Linked DNA regions of Homo sapiens: region 1 is reported to be linked to region 2. The links are microRNA targets in miRTarBase. Many come from high-throughput screens and were not tested one by one. Region 2 holds a microRNA gene; the other region holds the end of a gene's coding sequence.
Evidence for each region. Region 2 holds the annotated microRNA hsa-miR-6860 (ACUGGGCAGGGCUGUGGUGAGU, at 1,789-1,810, shown strand). A microRNA usually pairs through its seed, bases 2 to 8, with sites in the 3' UTR of a target mRNA and lowers its output. Matches are read on the target gene's strand: a 7mer-m8 pairs with bases 2 to 8, a 7mer-A1 pairs with bases 2 to 7 and ends in A, and an 8mer does both.

Region 1: miRTarBase lists METTL27 as a target of hsa-miR-6860. The part of its 3' UTR that is shown has no 7-base or 8-base seed match.

The regions. Positions count from the first base shown.
Region 1 is chr7:73,831,922-73,834,921 of GRCh38, reverse strand. METTL27 (methyltransferase like 27) reads left to right here. Exons shown (of 6, transcript NM_152559.3): 6 at 1-332. The coding sequence ends at 179. CLDN4 (claudin 4) reads right to left here. Exons shown (of 1, transcript NM_001305.5): 1 at 2,232-3,000. Among named protein-coding and RNA genes, the nearest start is that of CLDN4, 2.4 kb to the right of the region's middle. RefSeq lists an enhancer at 2,835-3,000.
Region 2 is chr11:67,043,895-67,047,404 of GRCh38, forward strand. MIR6860 (microRNA 6860) reads left to right here and starts at 1,749; the gene lies at 1,749-1,814. It overlaps SYT12 (synaptotagmin 12), which reads left to right. Exons shown (of 8, transcript NM_177963.4): 6 at 699-819; 7 at 1,850-1,983. RefSeq lists enhancers at 2,202-2,331, 2,432-2,511.

The sequences.
Region 1 (3,000 bases), not on the chromosome of region 2:
TGGAGCAGGCTGGGATGTGGGAAGGCCTGGTGGCCTGGCCTGTGGACCGCCTGTGGACCGCTGGGAGCTGGCTACCTCCGAGCTGGAGGTGGTATCCGGCATCTCTGCCAAGGATGGCTTCATCTCCGGCATTGTCTACCTGTACCGAAAGTGGAAGGCGACCCAGGTTGAGGAAGTGAGATCCAGCCCCCAGCCCCCAGCTGGCCCCTGACTCCATGTGGCCTTAGCTGGGCCCATCTGCTGGGCCTCCTCTGCCTCCCCTGTAAAATGGGACCTCCGAACCAACCCTGCCCCTCAGAAATGCCCTGCCTATTAAATGAGCTCCCAGAAAACAGTGGCATCTGTTCCTGTGGGTTCCAGAATCGAGACGTAGCAGGGTGTGGTGGCTCACACCTGTAATCCCAACAATTTGGAAGGCCAAGGCAGGAGGATCTCTTGAGACCACGAGTTCAAAACCAGCCTGGGCAACATAGTGAGACCCCTATCTTAAAGAAAAATTGTAAAAATTAACACTTTGGGAGGCCGAGGCGGGAGGATCACTTGAGGTCTGGAGTTCGAGACCAGCCTGGCCAACATGGCGAAACCCTGTCTCTACTAAAAATACAAAAATTAGCTGGGCATGGTAGCACACCCCTGTAATCCCAGCTAGTTGCGAGGCTGAGGCAGGAGAATTGCATGAGCCCAGGAGGCGGAGGTTGCAGTGAGCTGAGATGGTGCCACTGGGTGACAGAGCGAGACTCTGTCTCAAAAAAAAAAAAAATTGGAAAAATCAGCCAGGTGCCGTGGGTGCATGCCAGCTATTTGGGAGGCTGAGACAGGAGAATCACTTGAGCCTGGGAGGCAGAGGTTGCAGTGAGCCCAGAGCACACCACTGCACTCCAGCCTGGGCAACAGAGCAAGACTCTGTCTCAAAAAAAAAAAGAAAAGAAAAGAAAAAAAGCAAGAAATGATGGAGAAGACCCCTTCCTGGGGCCTCCCTGGATCCCTCCTTCCAGAGTGCTGGGTCCGCTCACCTCTAACTTACTGACAAGAAAATGAAGCCTGAGCAAGCTTGGAACATGCTTTGCACAACAGTAGCAGGGCAGAGACTCAAGGCCAAGGCCAAGCCCAAGTGGTTGCTGAGGCCCAAGTCCTGTCCTGGACAGCTCCCCCACCCAAATTTGGAGTCCAAAATCCCAAGCTGTAGGTCTGGGCCTGGGCCACACTTGGTTTCCTCATCGATCAAGGGATCAGAATGCCGAGCTCTGGGCGTGGCTTGAAGGCTGCCCTCCAGGTGAAAGGCATTTGGTGACCCTCAGCACCTCAGGGATGTGAACAGGGCTGATAATAATTTCTCCATCCAAGAGAATGGGAAGACTTCATGGGGGAGGAGGCTGGGAGCTGGGCTTTCAGGACGAGCAGGATCCAGAGGGTGGAGAAGGGAAAAGGGACATTCCAGGCTGGAAGCAGGGACCGGCTGTGCAAAGGCTGGGAAGGGGGACCTGTAGGGTGACTCAGCAAAGAGGAACAGACCAGCCTGACTGCCCAGACAAAGCTGCAACAACAGCGGGGTGGGGGTGGCAGGTGGCCCATACCTCGGAGCTGGGAGCCCACGTGGGGACGTCCCTCCTGGGGTCCCCAACCCTTCACCGGGGTCCCGGGCATACGCTGTTTTCTGTATATGGGTTTACCCTCCAACCCATATACAGTGGACAAGGTGATACCTTGGGGGCCCATTTAATTTCTTTTTTAAGGTGATACCTTGGAGGCCCGTTTCGATTTTTTTTTTTTTTTCGTTAAGAGATAAGGTCTCGCCCTGTCACCCAGGCTGGAGTGCAGTGGTGCGATCAAAGCTCACTGCAGCCTCAAACTCCTGGGCTCAAGCAATTCGCCTACCTCGACCTCCCCAAGTACAGGGATTACAGGCATGAGCCACCACACCCAGCTAATTTTTTTAACTTTTTGTAGAGATGGTGCCACTATGTTCCCCAGGCTGGTCTCAAACTCCTGCCTCGAGCGATCCTCCCACCTCGACCTTTTAAAGTGCTGGGATTGCAGGTGCTCACTACCGCACCCGGCCCAGCTCCAATTTTTCACAATTCCCTGGATCTCGTTTTTTTTTTTTTTTTTTAAGTGTTTATGTCCCGGCCAAAACACAGTGGTCCTGCCCCTGACTGACCCCCCCCACCCCCGCACCCAGGCCTCCAGCCCTTCCCCACCCACCTCCACAGTTGAAATCAGAGACAATAAAATTTCCTCCTGTGCACAGGTCCCATTTATTGTAGAAAATAATAATAATTACAGTGATGAATAGCTCTTCTTAAATTACAAAACAGAAACCACAAAGAAGGAAGAGGAAAAACCCCAGGACTTCCAAGGGTGAAGCTGTCCCCTCCTCCCTGCCACCCTCCCAGGCTCATTAGTGTCCTTGGAAGGGGCAGAGGACTCAGAGGGGATCAGTCTCCAGGGGCCCTGGGCTGAAGCGGGTGAGGCAGAGAGTCCTGAGGCCACAGAGCTGGGCAACCTGAGCCGCCTCTCTGGCCCCCTCCCCCACCACTGCCCAAACCTGTTTACAGCACCTTCGCCCCTCCCCTCTAAACCCGTCCATCCACTCTGCACTTCCCAGGCAGGTGGGTGGGCAAGGCCTCAGCCATACTCCTGGGCGCGGGTTTCGGTGAGCAAGGCACAGTCCCAGAGGTGATATCAAGGCCTACCCGGAACAGAGGAGATGCAGGCAGACAGAGTGGGGAAAATGTAAATGGGGACAGTGGCCAACGCCGATGCAGGCAGATCCCAAAGTCAGGGTTAAGCTATCCTGGCCAGCAGAAGCCAGCTCCCCACTCCACCACCACACCCTGTCACTTCCGTCCCTCCCCAATATCCAGAGGAGGGTGGACTCTGTTCTTGCTAGCAGGAGGCGGCCTTGGGAAGTTGTCCGAGTGGGCCAGAGAGGCTGAAGGCTGCTGCCTTCCTGCCTGGCTCAGTCTCTGCCCAGTCCCCAGTCCCCAGCAGCCAGTGGCC
Region 2 (3,510 bases):
CACACATACACTTCCAGGAAGGGACTCCATCATCCTCATCATCCTCTGCAATAGCCTGAGCCCCATCATCATTAGGAGAGCAGAGAAGAAGACCTGAGCCACATCCGAGGAAACTGCTTGCTGCAGGCAAATTTCAAAAACATCCCGACCACTGTTTACAGCTCGTCTGCTGCTTTGCCACCAAAGCTTCAGAGGTTCTACCCCTACTGAGCTTCTGCTAGAGAAACATTCCTCTAGCCTTAGAGGGGATGATTTCAGACAGACACCAAGCTGCACTTTAGTTTTATAATTGTAGGAATGCTCACAGAACATCATTGTTGTTTAATCAAAGAATCTAATTCCATTCCACTCTGATCGCTGTGTATTACTACCGCAGTGTTTTCCTTGGCCTGCAATGAGGGAACGAAACTACATTTGATAGCTACATTTGACAGGCCGCCTCTGACCCTCCGCCCCAGGCAGGACCCTCCCGGTGGAAGGGAGGAGTGGGGCATGCTCCATGCAGTGGCGGGGGGTGGGTGGCTGTCCCTTTCTCCAGGCTGTCCCTGCCTGCCTGGAGCCCTGTGGTAAGGGGCCCCCAGTGCAGCCACTTCTCTATGGAGAAGGAAGCCCCAGCCTTTCCCTGGCAACCAAGGCTTTCCCTGGACCCCTCAAGTCGGGTGGGGAGAAGCCCTCTGAGCCACCTGTCTGTCCCCCAGGCCGCCGATGCTGTGGGGGAGATCCTGCTCTCCCTCAGCTACCTCCCCACAGCCGAGCGCCTCACCGTGGTCGTGGTTAAGGCCAAGAACCTCATCTGGACCAACGACAAGACCACAGCGGGTAAGGCCCAGCCGGCAGCCCGGCTCCTCCACGTAGCTCAGTGGAAGCTGTGGCCCAGCTGCTGTGCTGTGGGCACCCGGAGGCATCGGCAGGTGTGGGACACAGTGCCAAGGTCCCCCTCAGCTTTGCTGAGCCCAGAAGTCATGCAGATGGATAGGGGGTGGCATGGGGACAATTAATCCAGCCGGGGAAACATGAGATCCCTGGAGGGTGGCAGGGGCCCCTGTGAGGGCAGAGTGAAGGGGGTCAGAGTGATGCGGGGGTCTCAGGGCAGGAGGCCGCACTCAGGGCTGGGGGCACTGGGCAGGGAACCAAGGTGGGCATCTGTTCCCTGGAACTGGAATTCATGGTGGAGACTCCATTCCCAGAGACAGGGCAGTATCCCAGACTCCAAAAAGGGACCAGGGCCACGGGGTTGGGGTGGGTGCCAGGCAGGACCCGATGCCTTAGGTCTGCAGGAGTCCCCAGTCCCTCTCAAAGCAGTGACCGTGGAGGCAGCTGTATTCTAGAGAACTGAAGACCAGGGGCTGGGGGAGCCTGATCTATTGGGAGTTGCAAGCCTTGGGGCGGGGGTAGGTGGGGGGGGCAGCTCCAGGCAGGTGCGGCAAGGACACCCCGTGGGCAATAGGTGATGGGCAGACGGCAAGTTGTTATTTCAGAGCCGCACACGGTTGAGTCAGGCTCTGCTGTGCGGGTGCCCGGTGACTCAGGGCTGACGTCTGCACTCGGGCCATTTATAGAAGGAACACGGTGGGGCTGCTGAGTTCCCCAGAGCATCCTAGGAGGGGAGCGCGTGGGCTGTGAGGCAGCTGCCTGAGCACAAAGCCCAGCCCTCACCTGACGTGCTGTGTGAGCCTCAGTTTTCTCATCTGTGAAATGGGAAAAATAATAAAGGACCAATGGCAGGGCTGCAGGAGGTCACAGCAACAGTTAAGCATTGGGGAGTTTGGAGTCGGTGGGTGGAGCCAAACTGGGCAGGGCTGTGGTGAGTGAGTGTGACACTGGCCCTCACCTGTCCGCCTGCCCACAGACCCCTTCGTCAAGGTGTACCTGCTGCAGGATGGGAGGAAGATGAGCAAAAAGAAGACAGCCGTGAAGAGGGATGACCCCAACCCGGTGTTCAACGAAGCCATGATCTTCTCGGTGCCAGCCATTGTGCTCCAGGTGAGGGGGGCTGGGGGATGGGAAGGGGCCAGGTCACCCCAGGGCTCTGGGGCTGCCGCATCTCTCCACCTTCTCTTCTCAGGGCCCCTGCAGGGGTAGTGGTTTGCCTCCAGCCATCACTTTCTAGCAGTTATTGAGTGCCACTGGGGCCAGCCCTAGGGTGGGTGCTGGGGACACAGGCATGGCTTTCTCGGTGCTCACAAGGGACAGGCAGGAGAGTCCCTAATCCACTAAGAGTGTCCTCAGGTGAGGGGGGATTCCTGCAGGAGGGGATACCCAGCTCTGAGGGAGGACCATTCCTGGTGGAGGGAACTGCAGAGGGTTGGAGAGGAGCTGGGGTGAGCCAGGCACCCAGAGTTCCTGCTCTGAATCTCCCAAGCTCCATTTCAGGGTTCTGCTGAACTCCCCAGGTTCGCGTGGTCTTCAGAAGGTGACATGCTCCAGGGAGACCTCTCCCAGCAGGGACATCACAGACCACGGGTGGGGCTTGAAGATAGGGCTTGGGCCCTGCTTGCATGCCTCGGAGGATGGGGCTCGCACCACCTTCCCTCACTATCTCTAGCCCTCCTCGGCACTCCTGACAATGAGAAAGTCCTTTGTGCCTTGAGCCAAAACCTGCCTCCATAGCCCCAGGGCTGTACAGAACCCGCCTAATCTCCCCCAACCCGGGGACCCCGCCAGCATGTAAAGGCCCAGAATCTGCCTCACTCTGAGTGTTCCTAACCCGGGCACACCCCAGCATCTCTGGCCCATCCTGGGTATCGTAGCCTTCACCTGCCACCCTCGTGGAGCAGGCTGCCCATGTGTCCTCTGCCTCTCCCTGGGTGTCATAGTGCCACTTCTCCACAGCCTCTAAAAGCAAGAGACTTCTTGGGACCATGGGGGAAGTGGAGGAGGAGAGAGATCGGGCTGGGTTTGAGTTTCAGCTCCCGCTCTCATCTCAAGCAGTCTCTCCCGTCCTCGGTTGTGAGTGCAACGTGGTGATATTAGTAATAGCAACGCAACCTCTAGCATGTTCTGACTGTGCGCAGGTGCCGTTCTACACAGTTCACTCTTTTTGTTCCTGAAACAGCCCTATGAGATAGAAACCAATTTTTTTTTTTTTGAGACAGAGTCTCACTCTGTTGCCCAAGCTGGAGTGCAATGGTGTGAACTCAGCTCACTGCAACCTCCGCCTCCTGGGTTCAAATGATTCTTCTGCCTCAGCTTCCTGAGTAGCTGGGATTACAGGCACCTGCCACCACACCTGGCTAATTTTTGTATTTTTAGTAGAGATGGGGTTTCACCACGCTGGCCAGGCTGGTCTTAAACTCCCAACCTTAGGTGATCCACCCACTTCGGCCTTCCAAAGTGCTGGGATTACAGGTGTGAGCCACTGTGCCCACCCCCAATTTTTTTTTTTTTTTTTTGAGACAGAGTCTTGCTCTGTCACCCAGGCTGGAGTGCAGTGGAGTGATCTTGGTCACTGCAACCTCCACTTCCCAGGTTCAAGTGATTCTCCTGCCTCAGCCTCCCGAGTAGCTGGGA